Linked DNA regions of Homo sapiens: region 1 is linked to region 2. Evidence: fine-mapped expression QTL. A gene starts in region 2. The other region holds a variant in brackets. All regions are shown on one strand. Distances are from middle to middle.

Evidence for each region. PIP is the estimated chance that this variant, and not a neighbour inherited with it, causes the effect.
Region 1: its variant is the best candidate, but not a certain one, in a credible set for the expression of HTRA1 in whole blood (Lepik 2017, PIP 0.81).

The regions. Positions count from the first base shown.
Region 1 is chr10:122,538,150-122,549,320 of GRCh38, reverse strand. No RefSeq gene overlaps it. Among named protein-coding and RNA genes, the nearest start is that of DMBT1, 17 kb to the left of the region's middle. The variant G/A (reference allele first, on the strand shown) is at 5,751.
Region 2 is chr10:122,457,041-122,467,819 of GRCh38, reverse strand. It overlaps HTRA1 (HtrA serine peptidase 1), which reads right to left and starts at 6,267. Exons shown (of 9, transcript NM_002775.5): 1 at 5,696-6,267. The coding sequence starts at 6,167. ARMS2 (age-related maculopathy susceptibility 2) reads right to left here. Exons shown (of 2, transcript NM_001099667.3): 2 at 10,468-10,779. HTRA1-AS1 (HTRA1 and ARMS2 antisense RNA 1) reads left to right here and starts at 6,415. Exons shown (of 3, transcript XR_946382.3): 1 at 6,415-6,871; 2 at 7,909-9,325.

The DNA of each region.
Region 1 (11,171 bases), 81 kb before region 2:
AAAATATTCCAAGTGTTCTTGATTATAGTACATCATGGATTATATCTAAAACATGTTAATGACCACAGTGAGAGAGGAAGGGAACAGCACATTAAAAGTACATCTCAATTGCGAGACAATTCCAAATTTCACATTAAAAATTGCATAAAAGACATGCATATGAGAATTAGCAAAATGGATTTATTAGAAATGGCTCTCTTTTTATATTTTTTTCCCAGTACAAGAATTTAGAGGCCCCCTAATCAATGGCTCTTATTTTTTGAGGAGGAAATTGAGATCCGAATGGCACCTGCTGCCTCTTTACGGGTTTCCAATGGTTTATCACCTTGTAACTCCTTGATAAGGCACTGCCTTTCTAGTCGCAACTGTTAGAAAGCTAGTAGGTGAGTAGAGATAAGATACGAAGAGGGAAAGAGAGTCAGATTTTTCTACACTGGCTTCCTGGTTAGACTACGAACCTACTTTCTTCTCAACGCTTTGTGGCCCAAAGGTTAGGAGGCCCTTTCTGAGGATACAGGAGATAAGTTCCAGGACCTTCTGGAAAGTGTCTTAACTGAACCATAGAAACTTACAGAGAGTAAGAGATCATTAAAAGTCCTTTTTGTGTTTCTATGTTGCTAAATGCAGTGGCAGACTGACAGTTTGCTCAAGACTGATTCCAAATTCGGGGCCATGAGCTGTGCTGGGCAGTATATAAGCATCATCGGGTGTGTTGGTTTAAAATTTGCATGCCTGGGCCTCACACCCCACGGATTTTCATATGCTAAGGTTGATATAAGGCCTAGAGATTTTTTTCAAGCTTCCCAGGTTATTTTAATTGTGGTGAAATAGACACAATTCCCAGGCGAAGGTGATGCATGGCCAGGTGTGTGAGAACTGAGGCCTACAGATGCTGAGCATGCCCGCCTGGCTACAAACCCAGGTGGAGATTCACATTGATGCAGTCTCATATTCATTTGGGAATAGAAGAAAGGAAGTTTGGGCTGCAAGGCAGTGATCTCAAAGAGCTCATAGAGGACTCTGTATTTAATTCAGTAGGAAATGGGGAGCTCTGGCAGGTTCTTGACGAATTTTATAAAGTGGTCAGAGATGAATTTTATAAAGACAGAAGATAGAATAAGAAATGGCGGTGTGTCTGTATTGAGATGCATGGAGATGCACACATTTCTTGAGCACAACTGCACCAAATAGCCTGTGCCAGGGGTCTGGAAAGCTGCAATCCCAGCCTGAGGAATTTATAATCCAGCTGGGGAGAAAAGTCACTGGTGCGTTGGAAAATAACCGATGAAAACCACTAAGCCACTTCAAGACCTGTGAATCAGAACTGGCACTAGAGATGTGCACTACAAACCTCAGAAGACACTTGATTTTAAGAAAAAAAACTTAGGTGAAATCAAAGACCTCTGTAAGCTTGAATTTGGAGAACAGCTAAGAGTTAGATGGACGATAGTGAAAGATTTCTGAGACAGTACCTGGCAGTGCCTAGACATTCATAAGTTCGAATCTTCATTTATGTCATGGATTACTTTTTTAGAAATAGAAAACCACTGGTTGTTTTGAATTATTACTTGAAGAAATTGTTTTTTAAATTTAAAGGTGAAAATAAAGCCACTAACAGAGCCCAGGTTGTCTGTCATGCTGTATCAGGAGGGCAGCATGTGCCAGTGCCTGGCAGAAGCCAGGACTGCATGGATTTGAGGGATTGGATGACGCTTCCCAGAGCAGTGTAGGGCTTACTCTGGGCCCCATGGGATGCTGTCAAGATGATCCTTCACATTCCTGGGAAACATGTCCTCAGATCTTACAAGTGTCTGACCACAAACCACTTTAGAAAATTCCAGGCCAGGCACGGTGCCTCACACCTGTAATCCCAGCACTTTGGGAGGCCGAGGCAGATGAATTACTGGAGCCCAGGAGTTCGAGACAACGTGACAAAACCTGGGCAACGTGACAAAACCTTGTCTCTACAAAAAAATTAGCTGGGCGTGGTGGAGCACACCTATAGTCCCAGCTACTTGTAGGGGGCTAAAGCAAGAGATCGCTTGAGCCTAGGAGGTCGAGGCTGCAAAGAGCCAAGATCATGCCACTGTACTGCAGCCTGGGTAACAAAGTGAGAGCCTGTCTCAAAAAAAAAAAAAAAAAAGAAAGAAAGAAAAGAAGAAAGAAAATTCTAATGTCTTGACAAGAAAGCAGTTAGCATGAGTTTAAAATGAGGTATAATTTGATTCATACTTGGACTTAAAATGGTCTCTTCAACAAATTGCTGCAACAAGTGATCAAAATGTAATTCCCAAACCATTTTAAATTTTACAATGAAATAACAAAAGAAAGTCTAATTTTTTTAGAAGCAAGGGCCTTGCTATGTTGCCCAGGCTGGTCTTGAACCCCTGGACTCAAGCAATCCTCTCCCCTCAGCCTCCTGAGCAAGAGTTACCATGCCTGGCTCCATTCTTTTTTTAAGGATAATATGTTTCATTTTTAAAGAGCAAAATATATTAAGGGAAGCTTTTACTTTACATTTTTTATAAAATAACCCTTCCAAACAAAGGTGTTTAAGAAGGATGATATGTTTGTATTTTTATCACATGCAGTGGAGATATTCAGATGGAAAAATCTCCACATTAATCTTCCTTGATTCAATCAAACCATGCCACAAACCTCCCATTCCCCAGTGTTGCTTAGGAGGCCCACATCCATCATCCTCAGGGGTCCTCCTGCCTCCTCGGATCATGCCAAGGTCCCAAATGTGGTCTCGTGTGCTTCAGCCCCGACCCCGTCTCTCCCTGTGGTTCTCTGACGCTGTATTGAAACCTGGTCCTCTCCAGTCTGCCCGTCACTGCAGCCTTGTAGAAGCAGATCTTGTGTGACATGCTTCCTGCCCAGGCCAGTTGGCTCAAGCAGTGGTGGGTGACTCTACTGTCCAAGCATCTGGGTTTAGTGCCCATGCCTCTGCTGGCCCCCAGGTGGCCAGCCCCAAAACTCTGCTCTGTGATTTAAAGTAACCATAGCACTCTGTTACTGAAGAAGGACCCACGCAAGTTTTCGTCCTGGAGCAGGGAAAGATACTACTAAGGCAGGAGAATGGCATGAACCCGGGAGGCAGAGGTTACAGTGAGCCGAGATCGCGCCACTGCACTCCAGCCTGGGCGACAGTGCGAGACTCCGTCTCAAAAAAAAAAAAAAAAATTAAGGTGCAAAGACAAAAAGTAAGTTTGCGTTTTGATTATACCATGGATTATGTTTATTCAATGTATCAACCATACTAGTGAATTTCTAAAGGATAAATATAACTTTCAAATAAGGCACAAAATAATAAAATGAACAACATACCATCATACATAGGCACCCACCTAATCCCAAAGGATTTATGGGTCACATGTCACCCCTAGAAATGTTCTTCATTACATTCTTCTTCACATAACAAAACCGTCCCAGAATATGTAGCATTCTGTGAATGAAACTCTATTTTTATGGGAACTTAGGGAGGTTGGCTGTGAGGACTCCCTTTGTACATTGAAAAATCATTTCCTAGCTATTTGGGGGTGGAGATTAGTCTGGCTTCCTAAGCATCAGCTTGCTCAAAGAAATCTTTAAAGTTCTCTTTCCATTTTAGCTGAGAAAATAGAAATAAAAATGGCAGTTGGGTTGGCCTTCTAACAACAGAGGCTGGGTGTGGTGGCTCACGCCTGTAATCCCAGCACTTTGGGAGGCCTGAGGCATGAGTTCAAGGCCAGCCGGGCCACCATAATGAGACCCTGCCTCTAGAAAAAAAAAAAAAAAAACTTAAAAATTAGCCAGGCATGGTGGCGTGTGCCTGCAGTCTTAGCTAGTCAAGAGGCTAAAGTGGGAAGATCGCTTAAGCCCAGGAGTTCCAGGTTACAATGAGATTGCACCATTGCACTCCAGCCTGGGCGACAGAGACCATGTCTCTTAAACAAGAGAGCAGGAGTACCCAGCCTTAAACCCACAGGAAGAAAGAAGGCCCCATTCCTTCATGCATATTCAATACCCCTTTTCTTCTCTGCTTAGAAACTGCCCCACCTGAAGTTGAAGGGTCCCTTAAATACCAGGATCTGAGAGCTAACAAGGATGTCAGCAAACATTCAAGCCCAGTCCTTCTTCCTCTCCTCATTCTAGAGATGAGAAGACAGAGCTCAGAGAAGCCAGACCATGGTGCCCAAATTCAAACTAATGGCTGCAACACTTCCTGCCCCCCATGGCATCATTCAGCCTCGGGAAAGGTCTCCCAGGGAAGGGGCTTCTGTGGGCCATGGCAGGGAGTTGCTTGTCATTCCAAGGCAGAAGCCCATTGTGGGGCCCCAGTTTCTCCTCCTTTGCATCAACACAGTTCAGCTGGGGGATGCATGGACAGGAAGGGGATGGGAAAGTGACAGGAGGCCACCATGGCCTCCATGGGAGAAGTGCCATCTCACTCAGCTTCCACACTGTGCAAGGGGCCATCTCCAGGTGACTGTTCCAGAAGAAGGACTGAGCCACCTATCTGCCTATTAATGAGTATCCACAGCAGGACCCCCACCGCACCCCGGAAACCCGGTGCAAGGGGCGGATTACGTCAGCTCTCTTTGTGGGGCAATGACTGTGACTGGAGTGGCTAAGGACTTGAGGGCAGCTTCCTGTTCATGCTACCAACGCAAGTCACCCAGCCCCCCTCAATCACCCTCAGCTCTGTCACCTCACACAGTCAGTGCCCACAACTTATTGCTCCTCTCCGCAAGGCCTTACTCTTTTCCCACGGTCTTCCTGGTCAGTCTCCTTCTCTTTCCTTCTGGCTTGGCCTGGCTTTCTTTCAGGGCCTTCTTGGTTACCCTCTCACCAGCCTACTCCACACCTGGCAGCCTGGTCTCAGAATTCAGACTGGGTATTGCTGACGAGCTGTGGGCATCTTGTCCCTGGCATGGCTACCAGGCCTGAGACTGCCTGCTACACTAGCCCCTGCCTGTCTTCATGCTAACTACTTTCCCGTTGGCATGCATGCACCTGGCATGGGTATTCTCCCTCAGGACCTCTTTCACAGCCTTCCTATGCCGCTCCCACTGTTTCTCTTTGCCTCCGGGAGGCATCCAGAATGTTGCAGCCATCTGTCACCATGAGCTCTGAAATGACACCTAAAGCTGCAGAGTGTGCATTCAGATGCTCTTCGTTAGGGCATCTGGCCGGGGCTTGCCAGCCACAACTGTCTTCATCACAGATCACATATCTGTAATATCTGAGGATCTCTTGACAAGAAGGGACTTGGTAAGAAGCCAACTTATCTACCTCTCAGTCTTCCAGTTAAAACACCTCTTGAACCACCCCCAGATGGTAAAATCTACATGTTTTCAAACATTTACAACATGAGCTTCCACAACTCTTAGTCACCCTTTTTTATGGGGAACAATGCACAAAAGTCATGAGATAAACGTTGTTAGCCACTGCCCAAAATGAAGAAAGGAAAATGCTCGTCTCTCTCTGTCCCGGCCCTGCTGGGGCAATATCCCCTCTGTCTTCCTCTGAGACCTGCAGAAACAGGATTGGGCTGGACTGGCCAATGGTCATGCTCCCTCACCTCTCACCTGGCTAAGCTGCAGCCTCTCCCCTAATTAAGCACATGTGCACGTGTGTGCATGCACAAACACACCCAGAGAACAAAAAGAGATTCAGATGGAAGCCAAATATGAAATGAAGCCTATCATTCAGGGTTTTTTTTTTTTTCAAAATTCATTTTGAATTTCATATTTCAGCAGCAGCAC[G/A]CTCAGGTTCACATATTCTAAGAATGTATCTCCTGCCACATAACATGCTTCATGTTGCCTTTCCTTGTTCTAAATGAGCCACATTCATGGACTTCAAAGAATAACTGTTTTAACATTTCCCCTTTCCTGATTTTATAAACTTTTCTTCATTCCCACTCCAGCTCATCTTTCTATTCCTTAGTGTCTTCCTTTGTCTGTCTTTGGATGGTGGCATATCTATATGTATGAGCAACATTTTCATCCTTTGACCATGCTCACTTCCAGTGTTCCTTAAAAAGTCACGATTATGGGCCTTTGTGTTCACGCACACAGCCTGCGGAGAGTCTCTTGCACTTTCTCTTGGCCCCTCTCCCAAAGATCCTAGTGGCATTTAATCATTTGTCTTTTGGAGGGTTTTTGCTCTTTTCTTCATTCTCTTCCACTGTGGATTAGAGGAATTGTGCTGATAGTGCTGACATCCCATATGTCACAGCATCCATGACTAGAGAGGACAAGCCCTCTTTTTTTCTGTTCCTATTCAAAAAATTGGTGAAGGATTCTGATTGGGCTAATTTAGGTCATATGCTTACCCTTGAGCCAATCAGCTAAGTAAGGCCACCTGTGGCATCTTCAAGACCATGGCAATGCCCACTCAAATGGATAGAGCAGTTTCCAGAAGCAATTGAAAATCTCTTCTCAAGAGAACTGAAGACAAAGTACTCAAAACAATAGATACACAATAATTAGCCAGGCATGGTGGTGGGCACCTGTAATCCCAGCCACTCAGGAACCTGAGGCAGGAGAATCGCTTGAACCCTGGAGACAGAGGTTGCAGCGAGCCAAGATCAAGCCACTACACTCCAGCCTGGGTGACAAAGCAAGATTCTGTCTCAAAAAAAAAAAAAAAGACACTCAAAGTATTTGTAAGCCTGCATGTAGGTGTAGTGAGCTATGATAACATTGCTGCCTGAAGACATGTTTACACATAATAAACACATCACAAAGAAGTTATCAAAATGCCAGTAACTACTACACTCATTTGGGATAGATACTGAATAACTTTAAGTTTTTCTAGAAAAAAGTTAGAGTTAAGTATTAATTTAAAATGTAAAATTTAAGGGTAAGAATTAAAAATAAGAAATGCACAATTTACAGCTTCCACATCAGCAAAGGAAATAGAAAGGGGAACACTAATAAACTTCAAAGACAGGCTGGGAAAGAAATGCAAACAACAAGGATGGTAAATAGAAAATACAGAAGATGTTTGAAATAAAGTTTAAATGTATAAGAAATCACACTAAACAGAAATGGATTAAACTAACTTTTTAAAAGAGACTATCCATATGTATTTTTTTAATCAGGCTGCTTCTGTCCTATCTATAAAAGTTATGCCTAAAACAAAATGACATAGAAAGATTGGGAAAAGATGTACTATGCAAGTACTCAACAAAAGTTTGCATGGTGATATTAATTTATAGTAAAATATTATGTAATTTATAGTAAAAATTATTAACAGACATAAAGAGGATGGCTACATAAGAATAAAAGAAACATTGCACCAAAATTTGGTTGCATCTACCAAAATAATCTTGAAACATCCTGAGCAAAACCTCACATAATTGCAAGCGGAAATTAATAAAACCACAACCATCATGGGAGATTTTAGCTCAGACACTATACATCAAGCAAGCACAAAATTCGTGAAAATATAGAAAGGTTATATATGAAAGGGAGCTAGTCACCAAATCATGATTGAAATCCAACCTGTGATGCAATTTTAGGCAAGTTATAAAAAACAGAAGCGTTCACACTGTAAGCCCATTGTCAGCGCCCTTTCTCTTATCACTCTGAAAATCATTTACCCATGAACAGCATGACTGAAAAACTATTGCTGCCAGGAAATGATTAAATAATCTGGATTACAACACACATTTACAAAACTTGCCAAAGGGTGACAGTTTTGTAAAAACAAGAGGAAGGCAGTCCTTGGCTTTTTATCATTTTATTGATTTGAAAAAATGGTATCAGGCTTAAGGAACATCTCCCATAGTCTCTGCCCGAAGACTTGCCACCTACTGACTGGCGGACTGGTCACTCAGGAACTCTTTCTAGGGCAGGGCTTTCCGCCTAGAATTTTCGCAGGATCTTAAAGAATAAAAGACTCAAAACAACACTAAAGATTACAATAGAATTTTCATGCTGCCTATGAAAGCATCCACAGTTAGTGTGATATTCCCTTGACTGCTGTTTACCAGCATATCCCTGGTCAGGAATGTTTATTGCCCTGTCTGGACTCTTTTCTATACTCATGTTCACATCTGGCTCAGGCTCAATTTTACACTAAGCCTCTTAACTCTTCCTTGGAAGAAAGGTCAGGAGAAAAGCTACTTCACTTCAAATGTCCGGCTTCATTCAATGAGCCTGTGATGAACACTATCAGAACAATATATATCATTTATTTTAACAAAAGTTATTTCATATGTTGATCCAAATCCATTGACCCTTTTGAGAAGAATTTATAACACATCAAGAGGCCATGGCCCAACACTTGAGAACCACAGTCCTAGGGTCTCGCCATCCTTACATCCTTTCTGATGCTTCATAACACACAACATTTTGCTTTAGTTTAAACTAGCTCCTGGAAGACAAATGAAGAGTTAATCCGCATCATCCATTCACTAATAAATTATAGAATACCTACTCCATGTCAGGTCTTGGCCCAGGCATTGAGAGTCAGCATGAATAAAATAAGGTCCCTGAAGAGCTTACGATGCAGGTGGGGAGACCTAGGCAAGCAGGTAATAACAACACAGTGCAATCAGGTAACCAAAGAGACCATGAGGGCACCTAGGAGAGTCCCCTTGCTGGAGAGAGTGGCACAGAGTAAGAGCATCAAGTCCTGAAGGCGGTAGCTGGGCCAAGTCATGAAAGAAGAATAGGCAGAAAGGAAGCGGGGGGCAGGTAGTGACAATGGGGAGAGCATTAGGGCAGAAGGTTTAGCATGCGCAGCGCGGAAAGATAGCAGCAAGCACCAGACACTGGGAGGATTGTGAGTGCAGAAGAAAGTCTAGGAAGTGAGTGGTGAGAGATGAGGCTGCAGAAGCCAGCAGGAACCAGGCACAGCCTTGTGTGCACCCTGAACAAGGAGAGACGCACATGCCTGGCCCTACAAGGAGGCTTAGCTTCATCTCTACAGCAGTTCTTCGTGGATCTGGAGACTCAAAATAGCCTGCTTCTTTGTCTTATCTTCTTGGGGCTTTGAATCAATTCTTTAGCCTTTTGTCCTGTATTTCCAGCTGCCATGAGAAGAATCTTCCAGACATCTTCAATGCCCTTGGCCTAAAGCACAGACTTCCAAGTTTGACATTCCAGGTGTTACGCCAACTCCAGGCAGCCCACCTGCCTCTCTGCAGACTTTCTTCTCCTACCCACCTGTGTCCTAGTAACAGCACTTACTCTTCTCCAGCTCTTTTCAATTGCTTGCAGCAGCCTAGCTCTACCTCTGTAGCCACATTCACTGTCCAGGACTCACCTCGAGCTGCCCCCTTTGGTGGAGCATAAGAAAATGTCTTCCCAATAATTTGGCATTTTCTATGCGCCACCTGGCATTGTCAAATTTCTTCTCATATGTTTACTTCTCATGTCCTGAGCTCCTGGAGGTGGCAAATGTGCTCTGAAAGACACATTCTACATTTCAAAAAGTCAGTTGGGTTAGTATAGATCAAAGCCTGAGTTGTGCTCTCTCGTTGTTAAATGGGAGCACCTTGGTTGTTAGACAGTGGTAGAGGCTAACCCCAAACTGAGATGTCTTGACCTAACAGACAAGTGCAGGACACCTGAAAAGGACCCACTTCCTCCCAGTGAGATTCCACCTATTTAATGCTGATTCCTCCACTGTCAAGATCATCTCCAGGCCCGGTGACCCAGAGATCTTGGGTCACTGAATGGAAAACATGAAGACTATTTACCTCTGAAAGTGGCAATGTACATTTATGAGGTGACCTTCCTCTTTTTCTGTATAAATTTTGGTATTGTTCAAATCTATGGCACATACATAACATACATACATAAGAAAAACAATTATTGAAGTTTTTGATTGCAAAATAATCAAGAAGCTCATAAAAATGATGCCATAGTTGGATGATGTAGGAGGTTGTTTGTTATTCCCAAACACCTCAGCACCTGGGGTACAGAGATGAGTAAAAAAAAAAAAAAAGAATATCAATCCTGCCATTTTAGAGATCAGTGTGCATGCATGTGTGAGTGGCTGTGTGCACATGTGGGGCTTTTAAATGAATGGTCAAAAGAGGGGTGTGAGGGAAGAGAGAAAGACTAAGAAAGAACATGTAAGAAGCAGAAACACCAGCACAGACCAGGATATGGAAGGATATGGAAGTCCTTCCTCTAGCTCTTGAGAGAAACACTCATTTCTTAAAGCAGGAAAAGACCCAAGAAGGATGAAGTCTCAAAGTTTTTGGAGGAAGTTCTTAGGAAAAGGAATGGATTCTCCTTGTTGTACCTCCAGAGAGGAGAACTGGAAGTAACACCAGGTGGATGTTGCAGAAAAGTAAAATACAACGCATCCTGGGAAGGTGCTTTCTCCCAGGTCAAGAGTTTCCAGGGGGCTGTGTGGAGCACGAGCTCCCAGTCCCGTGAAGTGTTGGAACCACGTGTGAAGGCCATCCAGCAGCATATAGGCTCCAGTGACCTCCAGGGCCATCCAAGGCAGTGTGGTACAGCAGAGAGCACTAGGGTTTCCCCTTTTCCCCTACTTCTCATATCTCCCATATACAATCCATAGACACGTCCTGGTGGTGCCAGAGCCAAAATATATCCCAACCCATCTTTGCTGCCAGCTTCCAGCGTCCCAGTCCAAGTTGTTCCCTTCCCCCCTGGAAAGCTGTTGTCCTGGCCTCAACTCTTAGTACTCTGTGGTAGGCTCTCCCCACAGCAGCCAGAGTGGTGTTTCTTTATTTTGTGTGTGTGTGTGTGTGTGTGTGTGTGTGTGAACAAATACTTATTTGTTTATGTGTTTTCATTGATAAATGAAAATTGTATATATTTGTCATGTACAACATGTTATTTTGAAGTATGTATACATTGTGGAATGGCTAAATTGAGCTAATTGACATATGCGTAACCTCACAGACTTATTTTTTGGTAGTGAGAACACTTAAAATCTACTCTCAGCAATTTTCAAGAATACAATACATTGTTATTAACTATAGTCACCATGTTTTACAATAGATCTCTTGAACTTATTCCTCCTAACTGAAATTTTGCATTTGACCAACATCTCCCCAACACTCCCCACTCCCAGCCCCTGGTAACCACCATTCTGCACTGCTTCTGTGAGTTCAGCTTTTTAAAAATTCCACATATAAGTGAAATCACGCAGTATTTTTCTGTGCCTGGCTTATTTCACTTCATGAAATGTCCTCC
Region 2 (10,779 bases):
CGGTTTCTCTATTAATAGGATTTTTCTCTTTCTTCTTTTTTTTTTAACGGCAGAGAAGGTGGAGAAGGAAAAGATGAAATGACACAAGGGTATCTCACTTCAGATGACCCAAAGGCCTTGGAGCCCCAGGGAAGGAGCAAGGGGTATGAGTCTCGTGGAAGCTCATCTCTTGGAGATGAACATGTCACCCCTGTGGTCTCCCGGGGACTTCAGCAGCCAGTACAAAGCTGAAACACAAAGCAACCAGGCTCAAGATGGATCACATCTATTCGATGCCAGCCTTGGCTTTAACCATCAATAATTTAGGAAAAAGAAGTAGCTCATAAGGAAGCCTCCCCAGGCTTTAAATTAGGAATGAGGTGACCACAACCTCCTCAAAGACTTGTTTTCTTAGAAAAATCCCAGACCATTCTAGTTAAAAGGAGCCTCAGAGATCAACTGGCCCAATCCCCTCACTGCCGAGGCTCCGAGAGGTCGAGGGAGCTGTTACCTGGTCAGGTAACACCCCAGGAAGGGCCAGAGCCGCTTGCCCTCAGCCCCTCCGCCCCAGTTGGCCTTCCAAGGAACCCTCACCCACTGCCAAGCTTACTTCTTCTTCAAATTAAGCCTGACCAGAGCTATTTATTCACTTGAAATATAAGCTCATGGAAAGTCTGATTTCTGAATCCAAGGCATGAAACTCATCCAGGATCACACAGCTCCAAACGGAGAATCCAGCCCCAAAGCGGAGGCCATCAGGCTTCTGACCACAGTTAGCTCATGGTGCCCGCCACCATCACTTACTCAATGCAGTTATTTTAAGTTCCAATGCAACCCATTTACAGCTCTCTCAGTGGAATGAAGTAACTCAAACACTTGGTTTTTGAGCTTGTTAACTTCCTAATTTTATGAAGCCTTAATATTTTAACTCTTTAGCAAAACCAACAGAGCAATAAAAGAAGGCAGCCGACCAGAGCAGGCAGAGACTCATAAACTGCTCAAAAGACCTCCAAGTTTCCAAGTTTCAGGTGACTAAAAGCTGGAGACTCACAAATGTTTCCACCCACCCTGCCCTAAGATGAAGCTCAGGTCCCTGGCACACTTGTTTTTTAACTGACAAAAGGTGTATTTGAATTGCCAATAGTGAAAATGACTCTCGAGCAAACTGCCCACTTTAACAATGGAAAAATACAACCCCAGGGAAGCAGTGATTGTATTTTCCCCCATTGTATTGAATATAAGTTACCTGTGGGCAGTGACTTTGTTTTATTCAACCCTGTCTCCCCAGAGCTCAGTACAGGGTCAGCACTCAGCTAGCAATGATTGCTTGTTTGAGGTTCCCACGAAAGAGTCACCTAAATAAAGTACATTTTGGCACGGGTGCAGTGGCTCACTCCTGTAATCCCAGCACTTTGGGAGGCCAAAGCGGGCGGATCACAAGGTCAGGAGATGGAGACCATCCTGGCTAACACGGTGAAACCCCGTCTCTACCAAAAAATACAAAAAAATTAGCTGGGCGTGGTGGCGGGTGCCTGTAGTCCCAGCTACTCTGGAGGCTAAGGCAGGAGAATGGCATGAACCCGGGAGGTGGAGCTTGCAGTGAGCCGAGATCGCGCCACTGCACTCCAGCGTAGGCGACAGAACGAGACACTGTCTCAAAAAAAAAAGTAAATTTTACAAACATTCCAGGGCTCCAAGAAGTAAAGCAACCATCTAAGCCCTTGGTTCTTCACCAGGTATGTACATACAGCCTCTGCCTTTAGAGGCTCTGGGGTGAGACCAGGAGCAGGCGATCCTAAAAACCTCCAGGGGTGGAGTTTCTGGGCACCCCTGCAGCTTGCAGACCTCCAAGCTTGTCTGGGCTGCTGCATGGAGTAGGGTGGGCTTTCCTGGAGGATGTACTAGCAGGAGAAATGGATGAGGCTTCTGCTGTTTGGGAAGTCTGTTTCAGGTCTCGTTCCTGGCTTCTTGTCCATGTTTTAGCAGAGGTCCGGAATCCCGGCTGGTCTTTTGGGACATGGGGGAATCTGGAAGGGCTTTCTCTCTTCAAGAGCAGTTTGTCTGGATCTCTGGCTTGGAAACAGCCTTCCTACAGTCCCTCGGCTCTTTTTGCTTTTCTTTAGTGAGGGCTGCACTGACGGCAACTGGAGGCAACCTTGTCTTCAGGCTCCTGAGCCTGCAGAGTGAAGGCTGTGATCTGTCCTGTTCCATCTCTAAGCCACAGCCATCTGGAGCCCTGTTTATTTCAGCTATTAGCTGGGGCTTAGCTGGGGTTGGTTTAAAATCTCTGTTGCTCTGTCAACAGCACAGCATGGTGGTTATGAACGAGGCTCTCCATCCAGTTGTGTGGGACCACCAGTCCTGAGCAAGGTACTTCTCTGTGACTTAGCTGCCCAGCTGTAACCCAGGGAAGACTACAGCACTCACTCATAGGACTGTCCGGAGGATCAAATGAATTAGTATGCACCCGGCATAGAATAAGCACAACATATATGTTAGCCCTCATTATTAGTACCCTATTAGTATTTCAATTCCTTTCTTTTTTGTAATCATCTGACCAGTACAGCTGGAGATGACAGATCTTTGTTCTCTAGCTGAATTGTATACTTTCCCATCCAAACCCTGCCAGTGCATTGACTTCTGAAATAGATGATTTGCCTTCATTTCCAGAGCGGTGAGCAGAGATGTTCTCTGAGGTCTATTCAATAAACAGCTTACAGATGAAAGTGCTTTCCTTTGAATGGTGACATGTTCCTCTATCCAAAGATCTACTGTGACCCAAAGTGCTAGTCACCTCCCTGGGGACCCCTGATCTGATGACATTTCTACCTCTCATCCCCTGGCATGCTCTGCCCCAGACAAAGCCACCTTATAATATTTGAAATCGCAGCACCCGCTCCTGCCTCGAGAGCTCTGTCTCCAGATCCGTGTATGACTTGCTCCAACTCCAGGCCTCTAGTCAAGTGGCACCCCTAGAAAAGGCTCATGTCCATGGCAGCTAAAGTGACTCTCCCGCCAATCTTCCAGCCAGAGCAGGCAGCCAATTCACCTCATTTAACAGTGACGTCAAGTGACCTGCCCGTGGGCACCAGCTGTTGAGTCCTGGAGCCTGGCTTGGACTGAATGAAGTCTGCTGGCTCCCAGGCGCCTGTCCTCGGAAACACCTCCGAAAAGTCAAGGGTGGAGTGTGAGATCCAGAGAGGGGGCGCAGCAAAGCAGTGCCTTCCACTAAGGAAAAACAGAATGGCTGTGTATCGCAAGCACCTCCCGTTTGTCTTCATTCATTCATTTATTCATTCACTAATCCACTCGTACCAAGTACCTCCGATGTGCCAGACAGACAAACATGCAAACGGTGTCAGACACCCTACAGAGCTCAATAAATATTTGCAAAAGAAGGAGGGAGGGATAAGAAAAGCATTGTACCCACTCTGTCTCTCCCTCCTTTCAAAGCCACCATGCTTATCCCTCTGTGGCTGTCCCCTCACTGGTACACCGGGGGCCCGCTGTGAGCCCGATGGCCAATGGGGGACCTGTTTTCCTCCACACAGGGACTCAGCCAACTCCAAAACTTGTTAAGCAACTTGCCTCACTAGCAATAAATTAGGCGGCTCGCATGGTGCCAGCAACTCAGGACCCCGTGCGATGAGACCACAAACAGCGAGACCAGTAACAGCTGGCTTGTTTTGGACAAAAACATGCTTTTTCAATGTTGTCGCCTCACACCCAGATTATTGCAGTAGTCTAAACTCTCCACCCTGGATGCATTCCGCACTCCACTGCTAGGTCAGCCCTACACTACACTAGGCTTTGAGTTGCTCCAGTTCAAGAACATCTGCGCACAGGGCACGGGGCACAGCCAGCCTCTTCAGCCCTGGGACTCTGGGCCACCAGCCTGGCTCACTCCTGCTGCCCTCCCAAAACGTTCCCCAGCCACACTGATCTATTCACCTCCAAACAAGTCTTAGGCTTTGTGTATGCTGTTCCCAGCTCTGAGGGGGATGCACGTCCAGCCCACCAGGAAATTTACAGCACCTGACCCCTCTCCCACACCCTTGGAGTTAAGTGCTGGGCTGACTCCTCTGAATGAGGCTGTCTGGGTTTAAATTCCAGCTGAATGACCTTGGGCAAGTTTTTCAACCTTAGCTCCGCTATCTGTAAAACGGGAATGAGAAGCTGGGTGTGGTGGCATCCGCCTGTAGTCCCAGCCACTTGGGAGGCTGAAGCAGGAGAATCATTGAGCCCAGGGGTCGGAGGCTGCAGTGAGCCATGATCACACCACTACACTCCAGCATGGGCGACAGAGGGAGACCCTGTCTCTTAAGAAAAAAAAAGAGAGAGAGAGGAGCAACTGCCTCCTCGTTTGACCAAATGAGGTCACAGAGGTAACACACCCGGCACACAGACTGGGTGCTCAACAGACGTGTGCTATCATCATGCCCCTTCTCGAGTCTGCAGGATCACTTCTCTCCGGGACAACTCTCTACTGCCTGACTAGGCTGAGTTTCCCGAGGGCTGTGCTCCTGTGTTGGTGAAATACGCAATCTCGAATTTCACCCAGTTCGGCTCTGGCATCTTCCCGTCCACGTAAGCCAAACTATGCTAAGCCCTAGTTGGTCACACCGAACCATATTCCTATAAAGTAAACTCTAGACCAGTCCCTCTGCACTGTGCTCCCCTATGCCCCTCTCCTGGCACTGCCCGTGTTGAGGAGGCAGCACTGGGGTCCGGCAGCAGCGGCACGGCTGCGCCCAAGCGCACTGCCAAGCCCCGCTGTCTGGTTCCTACAACGCGGGGCTGGCCGCTGCTGAACTCGATATTATTTTTCCACATGGCCTCTGCCTGAAGATGAGGAGCATCTCTCCGGAAGGTCCCGCGAGAGAGTTAGACATTGCTCCATTCCACTCCTTCCCCCATCACCACCGTCTCCCCTGCCAGAACAGGTCCTGTGTGCGGCTGTAGGAACAGAGGGGTAGACTTCTTCCTCATCACTAACCCGGTCCCTTCTCCGCCTCTGCAGATTTCGTGATCCAAAGCCCGATTCAGCTTATTCAAAAGGAGCCACTTTCATTTTTGTAGGGCTGGCTCAAAACGAGGAAAGCAAGACAGGCAGCAACGCCGCCGAAACGAGAGCGGTGCCAAACCGTTCCCTGCTCGGGGTAGACTTTTTGGAGAAACTCCGGGGCGGGCCGGCAAACACTGTTCCTTTCCAAAAGAGTTACATACAGTTTTCACTGAGCGGTCCCGTGATCAAAGCAGTGAATTTTAAAGGGGACGGAGGACGTAAATAGAAGAAAAAGCAACCGAAATGACTTCTTGTGGTCCTGAAGCCGCTCTGCGAGGCGCCAATTCCCAGTCCTGAACTTCTCTCCTTCCTTTATGCCCCCATTCCTCTTATTTGTCCTGGGGTCCCCGCGCTGTGTGGTTGCCCTCAGGGCACTCCATGGCCGGTCGCCCGGCGTCTCGAGCCCCAGAGTGCAGGCCGGGCGTACTGGCATCGTCTGGGCGCAGAACCGGCCCCGGGCTGGGCGCGAAGCTCGGTTCCGAGGCAGCCCGCGGAAATCCGCCACCCCGGGGCCCACCTGCCTGTCCCCGAGAGTTGCCCTGGCCACCCCACAACGCTTCGCTGCCCCTCAACCTGCCCACCAGTCCCGCAGAAGCAGGTCCGAGCTGGGATGGAGAGAGTGGGGAGCTGCCCAGGAGCGCGGCGGAGTACCTTGGCCGCAGGCTCCGCGCTGCAGGACGATGACCGGCGGCCGGTGCAGCCTCTCGGAGCGGCGGCTGGCGGCGCGCAGCTGGCACAGGTTGGCGTAGGTGTTGGCGTCGCTGCCGCACACCGGCTCGCTGCTGGCGCACACACAGAGGCCGGCCTGCGCGCGCCGCCGCACCGTGGCCGAGGCTGGCACCCCGAAGGGCACCACGCACTGCAGCCCCTCGCCGCACGGGCCCTCCTGCAGGCCGCACGCGGCGCCCTCGGGCGCGCCGCACACCTCGCAGCAGCCGCACGCGTCCCGGGCCCGGCCGCCCTCGCAGTGCTCCGGCTGCGGCGGGCAGCGCGCCGGCTCGCAGCGGTCTGGGCACCCGGCGGCCAAAGGCGCCGAGCGGCCGGCCCGGGACAGCTGCGCCGAGGCGGGCGCCGCCAGCAGCAGCAGCAGCAGCGGGAGAAGAGCGGCGCGCGGGATCTGCATGGCGACTCTGGCGGCGGCGGCGGTGGCGGCGGACAGGGCGAGGGCCGGAGAGCGGCGCCGGGGAGAGTGCAGGAGGGCCTCGGGGGCAGCGGGTGCGAGTGCGCGCGGCCGCGCGGCCCAGCCCATTGGCCTCGCAGCGGTGACGAGCCGCCTTGGGGACGGGCACGGCGCCCGGGATGGGGGCTGGCCGGATGGCGGGAGGGAGGGCGGGCGGCTGGACCGGGACCGCCCGCGGAGGGGGCAGGGCGGGCGCGCCCGGGCACGGCGGTGCTGGCGGGGCGCGGGCGGGGCAGCGCACAGGCCGGCCCTCTCGCGGGACTCAGTTTCCCCGTCTGCGCGCCCCACATATTCGCTTTCCGCAGGTTCTCTCGCTGAGATTCGCGTCCTTCAAACTAATGGAACTTTGCAAGGGGGCCCTGCGGCGGCTTCGCGTGGGAGCGCCGGGGAAAGTTCCTGCAAATCGCCGGACTGGGGGCCCGCCCGGGAAGCTCGGACTGGGCCGGGCAGGGACTGCAGGGGCCTCTGCGCAGACCCGGGGCGTTGCGGCACCGCGGACCCCGGTCACGCGCTGGTTCTGCCCCCGGTACCCCGCACGCGGGACCCTGACCGCGGGGCCTCTGCGGCCGGACGAAGGCAGCGTCCGCGGAGCTGGCAGAAAGCCCGCGCCCAGACCCACAGTGAAGTGATAAAAGCAGAGAGCAGAAGTAATTCGAATAGAATCCTTCACACGTCTGATTCTTTTAAAAAGTTGTTGTGGGTGGCATGCGTGTCCGTATTCGCAGAGAGCCTAGGAAGCGGCTCGGCAGCTCGTAACTGGCGAGGGTGGAGCGGTCTCAGATGGGAAAGGGGTTTTCCCCTCTTTTGATTTTTCACCAAGTGCGTGATTATTTCAAAACACTTGTTATCAAAAATTTGATTTCCCACTGGAGAATCTTTGGTGCATCCGTTGGGACAGATGCGAGTCCGAGAGTCATCAGGAGGGCTGAGGGCGACCCTGGAGGTGGGTCTGGGTGCCCAGGCAGCACCAGGCCTGTGGGCAGTAGTCCTGGGTCCACACTGAGCAGATGGGCACAGCTCGTGTCCAAGGACCTGAGAGGAGGCCCTTCGTCCAGCCCTCATCCCGAACCCTCAAACCTCCACCCCCACCCTGGGCAGAGGCACCCAGGGTTGGGTGAGCCGGCAGAGCTGACTTTGGGATAGAGTAGCATGGGAGGGGGCTGGGGGCTTGGGGATTTTAATATTCTTCTGTATTTGGGTTGTTCCCTTGTGCACACGTTATTTTTCCAATACAAATAGTTTAAAAAGTAAACTCCAAATACCTATAAGCCCCCTCAAAGCACCTTCCAAATATGAACCTTGTTAATGCCCAAGGTCCAGAGGGGTCCCCCAGAAAGGCCCAGGAGCCTGGGGCATGGGAAAGCTGTCGGGGTCCCCATGCTGACTCCCTGGACTCCAAGCGATATTCCATAAAGCCAGGGCCTCCTGGCTGCGGGAGGGAGGCCTTGACCCAAAATCCATTCGGCCCTGGATACTGGAGAGGCAGAGGCCTCTGCTGATGAGAAGCCCTGAGTTCCTGGCTAGCTGTGGTTAACCACAAAAAATGCGGGGGGTGATGATTTTCGAAGTCCATCGGCAAAGAAAGACTCCCCACTGCAGTCCTGGGGCAGATGGAATTAAAAGGACACGTGGTGGTGAATAAATTGGTGATAACTTATTTTTGTCGAATTTCCTTATTTTACAGAGGAGAAAACTGAGGGCCAGAAAGGGTGACTCCCCTGAGTGTCATGCCACAAGTTGAGTGCTGGAGCCAGGACACCTTCCAAACCGGCTGTGCCTGCCTGCAAGCCCCATCCTCCTCCATCCCCCTGAGCAGCCAGACTGCAGAGGGAATGAGCGGACCGAAAACAGTGTGGCCGCAACTTCCCCACTGCTTTGCGGGAGGTGGAGGGAGTTTCTAGGCTCTTTCCCTGTTGGGGAATTAAGTAGCTGGGGATCCCACTGAGTCTCCACCACCCTCTCACCCATTTTCCACCCCTCCCCCACCACATATACATTCTGCTCCCCCAGTGCCAAATAACTTGCATTTTCTGGAACACACCTGTCTGCTTACGGTCTCTGTGCCTTTCTTTGCCCACATCTCCCCTCTTCTTGAAACACCCCTCCTCCCCTCCAGCGTGGGCTCATGTGACCTAGAGAAGCACGTGGGAGCCCTGTCATCTGGGGGACTTGGGTTCAAATCCCACTTCTGGTCCTTAAGTCTGTGACTCTGGGCCTTTGTTTAATAACTGGAGGAGTTTCATTAGGAAAATGGCAGTGACCACATATGTCCCTGGAGTGACTGATGTGCCACCCACAAGCTTCTATTTGGTCAGTGCTGGGTCCCATCGTCCCATCTAGCATGCTCCTCTTCCATCCTCGTGCCCCCACTCAGTGCCATTGTCTCTGCCTCTCACCCTCTGTGCTGCTATTCCTGCCCTCATCACCTCCTCCCTAGGGCAGAGGCCCCGTCTTCTTTACCATGCCCCAGTGCCAGCACAGTGCTTTGGCAAGTTATTCAGCACTGGGGGAGTAGAGTGTATGTGTGGTGGGGGAGGGGGTGGAGAATGGGTAAGAGGGTGATGGAGACTCAGGGGGACCCCCAGCTACTTAATACCCCTGAGGAAGTGTCGGCCGAAGTGGACCCACTCCTGTGACAGTTCACAGCCTAGAAGAGGCGTCTGTAACCACGGTGACCAGTAAGTGCCAGCCCTGGGGCCACGTGGCTGTTCTAGAGAAGGAAGACAGCACTACCCTGAGAGCCATGCTGGTGGCTTCATCAGGAAGGGAGTCAGCAGGGGGAGGACTGGGGGACCAAGCGGTCCCTAAGAAGCAGAATTTGCAATACCCAAGGTTTTAGAAAGAGCAACCTGGCAGGGCCACTGCACAATGAGATCACAGACTCACCTCCCAGCTGTGAGTGCAGCTCACCCCACCTGCTCTGACCCAGGCACCGGTTATGAAGAAGACAAGCAGCTCTACAGAGGGGCCTCAAGAAATCCTTCGAAACAGAAATCAAAGTCTTGCTGGAAGGGTTCTGGGCACCCTGGACTGTCCACATGGGAGGCTGTTGGTGCGTGTGCCTACGTGTGTCCATCAGTGGATGCACGAAGAAGGAAATGGTAAGTCCATTGAAACCTGGCCTCGTGGGCCCATCTCTGACCTTCCCTTAGTCCTAACGTCTCCATATCTGGAGGTAATGCTTTCAACCTGCAAGCGTTGCTCTTTCTTTTAGATTCTTCCCCATCTGCTGCCATTTATAAAGACGTTTTCTTAAAAGAAGCATTTTTCTTTTGATACATCATGAAAACTCATTTCTCACTCACCAGGCCTTGGCACGGTATTCTAGAGAGGATTTTTCCAGAGGAAAGGGGGCAGTTTTGAAGCCAAACAGACGAGTTCCCCAACATCCTCTCTGCAGCCCTCATTTGCAGCATTGAAGCTTTAGTTTTGAACAGGGCCAAGTCTATTCATGAATAATGAACAATGAAACACCACAGATGCCAGAGCCTTAATCAGGAAACGAGGCTTCTGAATAGGAATGGAGCAGCCATGTTTGTGCTGCCCAGGAGGACGATTTCCCACTCCGGGCCTCTGTTCTCCCAAATGTACAAAGGACCCAGAATGCTCAGGGGCTCCTATTGCCTTTCCTAAGTCACAGGATCTAAGATCTAAGGAGCTACAGTAATAATTTTGGCTCCTCCTATAAGCTTAGCCTATCCCTCTACTGCTCAGTAGTTTCCAGGGGCTCTCCATGCCAGTAGAATGAAGTCCAAGCTTCTTACCCTGACTTCCAGCGTCCCCCATGCCCCTCAAGCCAGGTTGTCCTCTAGATCCAGGGTGGTGTAATCCATCCCTACTCACCCATTCTCCCATAGCAACAGAACCCTGGCTGGGGCCATGCCAGCAGGTAAAAGATGACTTCTCAGCTGGTTTCACCCCCTTTCCTCAGAGTGCCAGACCCACTCCCATCCCCTCTGGCCACCCCAGCATCAGAGGTCGTAACCTCCTTTAACAGCAGGTACACCCTGATGACAAACCCACATCAGTTCAGTTAGGTTCGGTTCAGGAAAAATTTCCTGAGCCCCTGCCACAGGGTAGACACTGCTAGACACTGTAAAGCAGTGTCGAATGATCAAGCCCCTGTCCTCAAGAAGCTCAAAGTCTAGAATTTTCTGCAGTGATGGAAATAATCTCTATCTGTGCTGTCCAAGAGGGTAGCCACTAACTACATGTGACTGCCAAGCATTTGAAATGCAGCAAGTGCAAGGATGATCTGAATTTTTATTTAATTTTAGTTAATGCCTATCACCCGGGAGAGAAAGGAGGGCAAGAAAACAAAGGCAGGATGACAGGAGGGAATGCAGTGACAGAGAGGAATCCAGATGTTAGGAGAAGATTGGGCTGCATCTCAAGGGTTGAGAAAGATTTCACCAGCTGCACAGAGCAGAAGATGCATCCAATTGGTGATGACGTGATGAGTCCGCCCAGGTGGGGAAATTCCAGGTTGCACAGTGTGGCCGCAGGTGGGAAGAGAGTCCTGTGGACAGTTGAGGCAGCTGGAGGGAAGGGGACC